Homo sapiens: one gene and its partners. The protein of the gene in region 1 purifies or fractionates together with the protein of each later gene. This does not show direct contact. Each region holds a gene or a part of one and is shown in the gene's direction. Other genes may lie near its edges.

Region 1 (3,652 bases):
TTCATATATTTCTGCCTGCTTTGTATTCGCTGGCAGCTGATGAGATTGTGCCCACCCAGATTAAGTGTGGGTCTGCCTTTCCCAGCCCACTGACTCAAATGTTAATCTCCTTTGGCAACACCCTCACAGGCATACCCAGGAACAATACTTTGCATCCTTCAATCCAATCAAGTTGACTTTAGACTACATCTCCCTGTGGTACTTGTATCTTTCTGTCATCTTGCCATAAGCTTTATTTCCTCTTGCAGCCCACTTGCTTCAACAATGTCCTTTTTGTTTTATGAGGAAGGCTTATCAATTTTACTTCAAATGATTTGTGATTAACTAAAACAATTCTTTCTTTTCTAGGATTGTAGAAATCTATAGTAGAAGACTACAAGGTAAGCTTTAAAAATCTGTATTAACAGAAAACATTTTTCTTTTTTTTCTTTTTTTAAATTTTTATTTTTGAGACAGAGTCTTGCTCTGTCACCCAGGCTGGAGTGCAGTGGTGCAATCTCGGCTCACTGCAGCCTCAGCCTTCCAAGTAGCTGAGATTATAAGAGTGCATCACCATGCCTTGGCTAATTTTTGTATTTCTAGTAGAGACGGGGTTTCACCATATTGATCAGGCTGGTCTCGAACTTCCGACCTCAGGTGATCTGCCCACCTTGGCCTCCCAAAGTGCTGGGATTACAGGCATGAGCCACTGTGCCTGGCTACAGAAAACATTTTTCCTACACAAAAAGTATTTTTTGTTTTATTACTAGTGCGATAAGTATGACTTATAAAAATGTAAAACCTCTTAGGACTATAAAAAGTCTACTGTTTCAAGCTTCCAGAAGAAATCACTGTTGTATTTGCACATTCCTTCACATTTTCATGCATATACCTGCATTTTCAAATCAATTTATTTGGATTATGTTTAAACAAAAATGGGCTCATTTTATACATAATCAGCCTTGCTTTTTTCCCTGCTTTTTTTCATTTAACAAATCTTAAACATTTTTGCCACATCCATGTAACTATCTCATTCATTCTGGTGGCTGTCTAGAATCCTACCGTATATGCCATGGCTTGGCGTAACCTATACCAGCTCTGATAGATACTGGGGGGTTTCATCAGTTTTCAAATAGATGCAGTGCTGCAATGAATATTCCTGTATGAATTAAAAGACAAGTCATTTTATTCAGGACAGGAACTATATTATTTAGGTTAAATTGTTGGTTTTCAACATTGCTCTAAGCACAATTCAATAATTGGACTGCAGCCCCTTTGTTAACCCTGTTGCAGGCTATTTATTTGCTGCACTACTTTACCTCCATGGAGGTGCTTGGTAACCAGTACTGTGTTGTTCTAACTGCACAGGTATGAGATAATTGCTATTCTAATTCCTTCCCGCAGTGATGCTGGAGGGCTTCAGGGTGTTCTGAGATCTCTTTAGCCCTGTACTTCAGGTGAGGGAGTTGAATCCGGGCCTCTCTGTGGCCCAGTCAGCAGACAAAGCAGTCTGGTAAAAGCTGGTGTGTCTTGGCTCTTAAATCTCACAGAAGTCTGATTTTTAAGATTTCAAATGTTCTAGAGACAGAAAAAGCTTCCAGCTGTTTGTGTCAGACTCTCAAACTGAGCTCCTTATCACATCCACAGTTCAGGAGCGCCTTACAAAACAAATTGCTGTAGCAATCACGGAAGCCTTGCGGCCTGCTGGAGTCGGGGTAGTGGTTGAAGCAACGTAAGTCTGCATCTGCCTTTAGTAACGTCATAATGGTGCACTAGAAGTGATCTTGCTATTTAGTGCTTCTCATATTTTGTAGCACCAGGTGATGCCACACAACTGATATGATAACTGTAGATTTCCATCCCTGAGCCTAAAGCTCTTTTACCACTTTCATTTACTGTTACTGATATAGGAACAGAATATGGGAGAAGTATTTTTTGAGGGTAGGATGGGGCTTGTGGAGGCATAGGGAGTTAAAAGCACAGGTGTAGAGATTTGCATAATCAATAGCCTTTTTTTTTTTTGAGATGGAGCCTCACTCTGTCGCCCAGGCTGGAGTGCAGTGGTGCAATCTCGGCTCACTGCAACCTCCACCTCCCGGGTTCAAGCGATTCTCCTGCCTCAGCCTCCCGAGTAGCTGGGACCACAGGTGTGTGTCACCATGCCCGGCTAATTTTTGTATATTTAATAGAGATGGGGTTTCATCATGTCGGCCAGGCTGGTCTCGAACTCCTGACCTCATGATCCACCCGTCACGGCCTCCCAAAGTGCTAGGATTACAGGCGTGAGCCCCTGCGCCCAGCTCAATCGCCATTTTTTAAAAATGCTCAAGACAGGGTCTTGCTCTCTCACCCAGGCTGGAGTGCAATGGTGTGATCTTGGCTCACTGCAACCTCTGCCTCCCAGGTTCAAGCGATTCTCCTGCCTCAGCCTCCCAAATAGCTGGGATTACAGGTGCCCGCCACCACACCCAGCTAATTTTCGTATTTAGTAGAGATGGGATTTCACCATGTTGGCCAGGCTGGGGATCTCAAACTCCTGACCTCAAGTGATCTGCCCACCTCAGCCTCCCAAAATACTGAGATTACTGGCGTGAGCCACCACGCCAATAGCCATTTTTATGTCTTCTCTTGATTTTATGTCTTCTCTTGATTTCTTCTTTAGCTCTCTGTTGCTCCAAGCCGAGTTTTTCTAATATTTTGTCACACATTTAAAAAATAAAGCCAAGAATTGGTACATTTCTTTAAGTTAGGATGAGTTAAGAGAATTGCAGCTGTTGTGTGGACAAAGTTCATATGTGTTCTGTGACGTGGTGTGAACTCTGTTCTATGTCTGGTATCTAATGTCACCAGGTTGCTCAGACAGGATCTCTGGTCACCATTATCTGAATTCTGCCTGGTGACATCAGTATACTTGAGCATTTATCTGAACACCTAGGCTAGCATAGTGCTGTCTTGGTCCTGAAGGCAGAGCAAGTGAGAATTCTGACTTTCTTTTGATCTAGAAGTTAAGTAACTCTGTAGACCTTTTATATTACTTTCACCCCAGAAGAAAATTCCATTTTTCCCCTTTTTGGATGCTTTAAGGATCAACTACTGATAAAAATAAAAGTTGCAAGACAACTTCAAGAACAAAAAGTTTAGGTTGCTGCAAAGATAATTGCAGTTTTTGCCATTATGTTCAATAGCAAGAACCGCAGTTACTTTTGCATGAACCTAATAGATAACATTTGTGTAAGAAGGGATATTTCGATATACTTGGTAACTGTGAGCTGAGATTTAATCTTTAGGCCTGCTTTTAAAAACCAAACCAGCAGCTGTCTACTCCTTTAAACAACCTGTGTTGCCTTATTTTGTAGACACATGTGTATGGTAATGCGAGGTGTACAGAAAATGAACAGCAAAACTGTGACCAGCACAATGTTGGGTGTGTTCCGGGAGGATCCAAAGACTCGGGAAGAGTTCCTGACTCTCATTAGGAGCTGAGCTTCATTCAGTGTGTGTGCGTTGGTTGCCGATCGTACTGCCAGTAGCATTGTCTGTCTGTCCGGTCTTGTTTGTACATTCCATTTTCAATTGTTACAGATGTGAACTTTATTCCTTGTCACTAATTATATTTAAAATTATTTCTAGGAAGTCAAATAAATATAATAAAGGGTTGAGCCCTCTACTTTCT
Region 2 (3,652 bases), on another chromosome or scaffold:
TGATCAAATAGTAAGTGGGTCTAAAATTATGTATTTGTCTTTGAACTCTAAATGAAGCAATTCTGACCTGTAGATTTTTGAGACAAGCATAGGCATATGTTTGTTGCCTGACTAGCTAATGAAAACAGCATTTTCCCCAATTATAAAAAAAAGGTATATACTTACTATTGGAAAAAAAATCCAGATGATGAAGAAAATATAGAGAAACACCCAAAATTTTGCCATCCACCCTAAGTCAGCTACTTTCATTGTTGTGGTGTATATTGTTCCAGTCTTTTCTGCCTGCCTGTGAGTGTGTGTATTTTTATAAAACCGAGATGATTATACTTGTTATTCTACAGCCTGCCTTTTCCAACAATATATTGTAGAGAGATCTCCATGCCTATAAGTATTGATCTGTATCATTTTTCTTGGCTGCGTAGTATTTTATTGAAAGAATGAGGTTGTGAGGGAATAGCCAAAAAATCTATTAGGTCTGTAATTTGGACTAAGGAAAGAAGTTTGTGTTAGTAGATTAACTCACTTATCCATTGAAAGGATGCTAGTTTTTGAGAATTTTGACTCGACCCTTCTGAATGAGGTTTAAATATTTCTGGTGGTATATCTTCACTTGCTAGCTTTTATCAATTTAGAGTGATTAAATGTTCATGTTGATGGTGTTAAAAGATTCTAGATGGCATCCTAGAATCTCAGAAATGAGGAATGATAATAACAGACAAGAAGTTGGGGCCCATGATTCATTCAATGTTAATGGAAGCTGACCATCATAGTTCCTTCTAATGGAGCTGCATTCAAATTGAAATCAGTTTGGAGGTTTGAATTGAAACAAAACAGACTTAAAATTATTTTTGAACCTTTGAAAGTTACTTATGGAAACCTTCATTTCTGTTTAACTTCGTAATTTTGTCTTTCCATTTATTTGTATTGTAAAAGCAAGGGTTAGCAATAAGATCAAATATAATTACTTTGAATTTACTCAGAAAAATTGTAAGTTAAAAATTCATGGAAAGCACTTAGCGATTGCACAGTAGTTACCTGCTGTAAGAGGAGAGGAAACATTAATAAGTAGATGTTTCCCTGATAAGAGATTTAAATGAAGTCCTAGTTTTTTCTAACACCTCCATCACTTGTCATACTTTCATAATTTATAAGCACTTTTATCTTAACTCATTAAATCTTGGGAGGTTATCATAATCATAATCGTGGTAGTATTAGTAAATTATTGCTTTCTGTAAGCCAAACACTATTCTAAATACTTTACATATTTTAACTCATGTAATTTTCACAACCATATGAGGTAGTTAAGATGACGAGGTCAGGAGATCGAGACCATCCTGGCTAACGCAGTGAAACCCCGTCTCTATTAAAAAATAGAAAAAATCGGCCGGGCGTTGTGGTGGGCGCTTGTAGTCCCAGCTACTCAGGAGGCTGAGGCAGGAGAATGACTTGAACCCGGGAGGCAGAGCTTGCAGTGAGCCGAGATCACGCCACTGCACTCCAGTCTGGGTGACAGAGCGAGACTCCGTCTCAAAAAAAAAAAAAAAAAAAAAAAAAAGATAAGCATTTTTCAGGGTTGCCAGTTAATATTAATCTGTAAGTGTTGTATGACTGTGGTCAGGTATTATCCTATTTAAATTAGGTATTTAACTCGAGGGGAGAATGGGAGCTAAGAAAGCAACCCTCCCATTTTATTTGCAATGCTGGCATTTATGGTGTTTACTGCCAACTAATTTCGGGTTGCTTAAAATATGTAACTGCCACGTGCATAGCTTTTCATAACTTGTAAATGATACATACTTATTAATCCTCATAGTAACTTTCTGAGGTGAACAAAATAAAAAGTTTTTTTAATTTGCAAGTAAGGAAATGGAGGTTGTTTGATATTAAAAGATATCCATAAGTCATATACTTGGTGAGTATTGAGGCTGAGACTAGTTTTCTGACTCAAGTTTAGTATTTTTGTTAACAATATTTCCCAGAAGGGCCTGATAAAATAAAGAAGAGTGGGTGTGGGTGTGGGTGTGGGTGTGTGTGTGTGTGTGTGTGTGTGTAAGTGTCTGTCTGTTTCGGTTTTCATGGTCTGAGAAATTTTTCCCCAAGGGAAACATTAAGACTAAATTTTTTTTGTAACAAATACAGAGATGTTTGAAGTAAAGTGATTCCCCTTGATGTTTCTGCTTTCCAGTCTCATCTCACTTAGGGAACCACTGCTCATGGTTTGCTGTATATCTTTCCAAATGGTTCTCTGTGATTATTGATAGAAATGTATAAACGTAAAATAGGATTTTTTCTTTTTTTGTATTTTATAGAAAAAGATCATGCTATGTTTGTTACTTTGTCACCTGTTTTGTTTTTCTTAAATTATAAAAGTCGGTATTCTTTTAAATTGTTCTTTTAAAACATTATTTGATTTTCCAAAATTTCATTTATATACCATCTACCAGAAGCCTATTTATTTTAAAACATGAGATAGTACCTCATAGTTGGATAAAATTGAGGGAAATTATCATTTTCCAAAGGCAACATCATTCTATATTAATTTATATAACATAGAAAATGTAACCCCCTCAATAATTGTTTAGTTCTAAACTCAGGAGAATTGCTTGAACCTGGGATGCAGAGGTTGCAGTGAGCTGAGATCGCGCCATTGCACTCCAGCCTGGGCGACAGAGTGAGACTCCGTGTCAAAAAAACAAAAACAAACAAAAAACTGTATCAGATTGTTTTCTGTTTAAGTTTAGATGCCCTTATTTATGGCAGGGGCACTGGCGTCTTTGATCTGGTACTATGATTATTAAGAGTGTTAACTGCTGTGCTGTTGTAAAAAGTAAAAAGAACATGTAATAATCAATTTTTATATGCAGAGCTAATTTCTTTAGTTATCCAAACTGGATTTAGAAAAAAAAATGTTTTATTTATGGACTTAGTGAAAACTTTATACTGATTATACAAGGATGTTTTGTCTCTAAAAAACAATGGCACAAAGGAAAGGACCTTTTCTGTTGCTGTATAACAGCTACTGAAACATATTCATACTTGGTGTTTAGGGGAAAGCCATCTTTACATAGAAATAGAAGCAAGCCAGGCAAGGTGGCTAAGAAGCAACATCACTGAAATCACACATGCCTGAGATGTAAATATAAATTATTTCCCTTAAATGTCTTTGGAGAACCATAAATTTATTGGAACTCTCTTTCAATTAATTTTCCAAAAGTATTTATATTTTATAACTTACAAAAATCGAATGGAAATTAGATAAGGAAATGTTCCACAATGCTCATGTTGTTGTTACCAAAAACTCAAAAGGGTTAAAAGAAATTAGATTTCTAAAAGTGTAAGGTGTTAATTCCGTTTATGCATAAAATTGCTTTATAAAGTGTAATTATGCTTGATTCTTTTTTTGTTGTTGTGTTTTAGAAAGGGTGTCTCACTGTGTTGCCCGGGCTAGTCTCAAACTCCTGGCCTTAAATGATCCTCCTGCCTCAGCCTCCCAAACTGCGGGGATTACAGGCAGCCACCATGCCCAGCTGTTTGATTCTTGAATATCCATGGTGTACTTTAAAATTATTTTTAATTAAAAATTTTTGCTTGAACTGCCCTTATGACATTTATACAAGTATATTCATATAACCAAACACATACAGTATTTCTA
Region 3 (3,652 bases), on another chromosome or scaffold:
TCGCCAGGATCATAAACACAGCTCCAGTGAGGCGGCCCAGGCATGGGAGGACCACCTTCTGTGTCTGGCCTGGGTGGCCGCCACCTCTGCGGCTTTCCCTTCTGTTCGGTCCTCTGCTGGTCACGGCTGTCCATCCCCTCGCCTGGATGTAGCTGGTCCCCTGCCTCGGCTTGGCACTGGGGTTCACAGCGGCCTTCCAGCGCTCAGAATGAGGCCTGACCAGGGCCTGACCAGCTCCCAGGTGGAGCTACTTGAACCCGCGTGGATGGCAGCAGGGTCTGCCTGCTCTGGGGCTCCTTTGAGGGATGCAGCTGGATGGGGCATGTCCTGTGGAAGAAGCCAGGCCAAGTGGGCGTCTGGAGCCGGGGGCCCACATTCCTTGGGAGTGGCCAGACGCTTGGGGGGTGGGGCACAGCCTGGGAGGAAAAACCTGGGTGGGGGATATGTGCCAGGCCATCTTGGAGCTGGGGGCAGAGGTGGGGTTGGACCTTGCACATCAAGGCTCTCTTGGACGCTTCTAGACACAGCCACATCCCAGCCCCACAGTGCTGTGGCACAAACTACTCCTGTGTCCACACCTCATTCTGTTCCTTCCATCGCCCTGGGAGTTGGCAGGACAGTGGCCTTCTGCTTGATGCACGTGTTAGGAAACAGAGGCTCCAAGAGGCTCGATGACTTGTCCGAGGCAGCAGATCCCCAGTCTGGGGGGACAGGATTGCAGTAGTTTTTCCCAATGAGGGAGGGCTTGAGTCTGGCTGTTCACGGCCGCAGGACTAAGCCAGTGCCCATGCCCACAGGAATCCTTCGCTGTACCATGGGCCTGGTTCCCGGCCTGTCTGTCCATCTTTCTGTTTGCCCACATGGCCCTAGTTATCCACCGAATTAAGTTTCTACAGAGTATCTACTAAGGCCTGAGCTTGGGAAGGGCCTTGAGACACCCCCTGTGTGAGCCTCCAGATGGGCCTGGGTTTCCGCCCGGGGCACAGAATCCAGCCCAGCAGGCAGTGCCAGGCTGGTGGGACCAGTGACTATGGGGAAAAGTCCAGATATGAGCTCTGGGATCAGGCTCCCAGGGCCCCCAGGGGCGCGGACCACCCCCCTACCCTGGGCATAGGTACACGGAGACCTGCAGGCACACAGGCGCATAAACACACCTGCGCACACACACATCACACCGAGGTTTTCATCTCCATGCAGTGCGCTCCTGTGTGGGGACCCACAACACACACACACACACACACACGCCACCACCCTGGTCCACAGCCTGCGCACACATATTCCCTCCTGTGGGGACACACGCCCTCACACACGCGGCCGGGGCGCCAGGCCCTGTCTCCCGGACACGCGGCAGGAACCTCGGGCCTCCCCGGCCGGCCGCCTCCCTCGCAGACGCGCTTAGTCACCTGAATTTGATCCAGGCGGGAGGGAGGGATGGGGAGCCTGACGTCAGCCCTCGCGGCCGCCTTCCGCCCGCCCGCGCATCCATCTGGGCCTCAGCGTGTCCCGAGCAATCACAACAGCAGCCGCACAACAACAACTCACTTTTACGGCCTCCTTAGTGGCAGGCACTGTTCTGAGCGCCTTACGGGCGTTCCCTCCTCAGCATCTCACCACGTGCGGTGAGGTGAGGCCCGCTAGAACCCCATCTTGCGGGCGAGGAAAACCCAAGGCACAGAGGCGAAGCCACCTGCTCACGGGCTCCCAGCCAGGAAAGGGTGCAGCCTGGCTGCCTGGCTTCAGAGCCTGGGCGCCAAACCGGGTAACAGGGCTCAGGCTGGAACAGGAAACCTTCTGCCCCGACTTGCTGGGTGACCCCGGGCCCATCCCCACCCGCTGGGCCTCCCTCTACCTATCTAAGAAAAGCAGGGAAAGGTGTTCAAGGGTAAAGGAGGATGGCCTCTTGCTGGAATGGCAACCTCAAGGAAATACGCAAATTTTATGGGCCCGGGCAGCCTGTGGCTTCTGCCTGTGGCGGCTCTGAGTCCCGTAGTCCCTGCCTAGGGCCAAAAAGCAGGAGCTCCTGACTCTGGAGTTCATTCTGTTATATGTGCTGGGGCCTGAGGCTTGCTGGGGTTGCCTCTCTGAGGCTGCTTTCTCATCTGTCTAATGGGGACAGGGCTGTAACGATCACTATGGCAACCACTCATTTATTCAACAAATATTTATCGAGTTCCTATCACATGCCAGGCACTGATGATCTTTTGGAGACAAGGCAGATGAGCGTCCTAATCTCATGAAACTTACATTCGGGAGGGAAAAACAAGGCATGCGGAGTGAGGGGAAGGGGCGGAGGGGTGGGCCACCTGCTGGGAGGAGCCTGGCGGGTCCTGGAGGGTGTTCCCAGCTTTGGCTTCCTCCTTCCTATGCTGTCTGGTTTCCAAGCTCTCCCCGAAGCTCCAGCCCCACTCACTGTCCCTCTCACCTCCTCCAGGGAGGCCTCCCTATGCCACAGCCTCTCACCTCCTCTGGGGAGGCCTCCTTATGCCACAGCCCCACTCTCTGTCCTCTCTCACCTCCTCCAGGGAGGCCTCCCTGTGCCACAGCCCCACTCCCTGTCCCCTCTCACCTCCTCCAGGGAGGCCTCCTTGTGCCACAGCCGCACTCACTGTCTCCTGCCCTCTCTTCCAGGGAGGCCTCCCTGATACTCTAGCCTCACTCAGCCTCCTCACCTCCTTCACCTCCTCCAGGGAGGCCTCCTTGATGTTCCAGCCTCATTAACTCCCTCTCACTCCTCTGGGTCCAGCTTCCATGACTTTTCCTGTTCCTAGTGTGGAGCCTCCTCTCTTCCTTTCTCCATGTCAGCACCAGCCCCACCGCCTCCAGGCTTCTACTCATTCAACACACTGCGTACCGGGCACAGGGGGTCTGGACCTCACCCTTACCCTCAGTCTACCTCCAAACCCTGCTGTGAGCCTGGAAAATATGGGAAGGCAGGGAATCCACAGGACAAGTCGGGAGACTGGGGCTCAGAGTCGGGAAGGAGCTGGTCTAGGGCCCCTGGTGGGTCAGCAGGCAGGACTGGAACCCAGTCCTGGCTCCTCAGTGGCCGGTGGACTCCAGCCAGCCCTGCCTCGCTGACATCTGTCAAAGCAAGGGGATGGGGAACGAGCGGTAGAGCAGGCGCTTCACCATGCGTACTCTGGGTCTCCCTGAGACCCATGTTCTCAGTTGCTGTGTGGGTTCGGAGGAAGTTACCAGCAGACAGGAAGGATGGAGGGTCAGGAGTTCACTCACTTCCTTCTCCTGAGAACATGCAGAGTCCAGCGCAAGCAGGGGGAAGGGCATCAGGTTGGGCATGGCCAGCGCTCTACAAGCCTGGGACAGAGATGGGGGTCTCAGGCTGAGTGTCAGGGTTCAGTCCGGGGTCAGGATGTAGCCCAGGGTCATGGCTGAAGGTGAGGGCTGGGGGTCACCTCCCTGATGTTTCAGCCGCCACACAGTGAGTTTGAGAACATGAGTCTCAGGGGATGTCATGCCCCTGTTTCACCCCTCATTCCCCTCATTCTCATCCCCTTGCTTTTTTTTGAAACCGAGTCTTGCTCCGTCACCCAGGCTGGAGTGTAGTGGCGTGATCTTGGCTCACTGCAACCTCCACCTCCCAAGTTCACACGATTCTCCTGCCTCAGCCTCCCGAGTAGATGGGATTTCAGGT

The links.
Region 2: the proteins of GCH1 (region 1) and PPM1B purify together in Homo sapiens (affinity purification with mass spectrometry, with the first as the bait; one study listed by BioGRID). This does not show direct contact.
Region 3: the proteins of GCH1 (region 1) and CAMKK1 purify together in Homo sapiens (affinity purification with mass spectrometry, with the first as the bait; one study listed by BioGRID). This does not show direct contact.

The regions. Positions count from the first base shown.
Region 1 is NC_000014.9:54,843,827-54,847,478, reverse strand, and holds part of GCH1 (GTP cyclohydrolase 1), read left to right. Parts: intron 1-348; coding exon 349-380; intron 381-1,626; coding exon 1,627-1,711; intron 1,712-3,335; coding exon 3,336-3,462; 3' UTR 3,463-3,609; coding exon of another isoform or gene 3,610-3,652. UniProt on the Homo sapiens protein: Positively regulates nitric oxide synthesis in umbilical vein endothelial cells (HUVECs). May be involved in dopamine synthesis. May modify pain sensitivity and persistence.
Region 2 is NC_000002.12:44,203,330-44,206,981, forward strand, and holds part of PPM1B (protein phosphatase 1B), read left to right. Parts: intron 1-3,652.
Region 3 is NC_000017.11:3,886,505-3,890,156, reverse strand, and holds part of CAMKK1 (calcium/calmodulin-dependent protein kinase kinase 1), read left to right. Parts: intron 1-3,652. UniProt on the Homo sapiens protein: Calcium/calmodulin-dependent protein kinase that belongs to a proposed calcium-triggered signaling cascade involved in a number of cellular processes. Phosphorylates CAMK1, CAMK1D, CAMK1G and CAMK4. Involved in regulating cell apoptosis.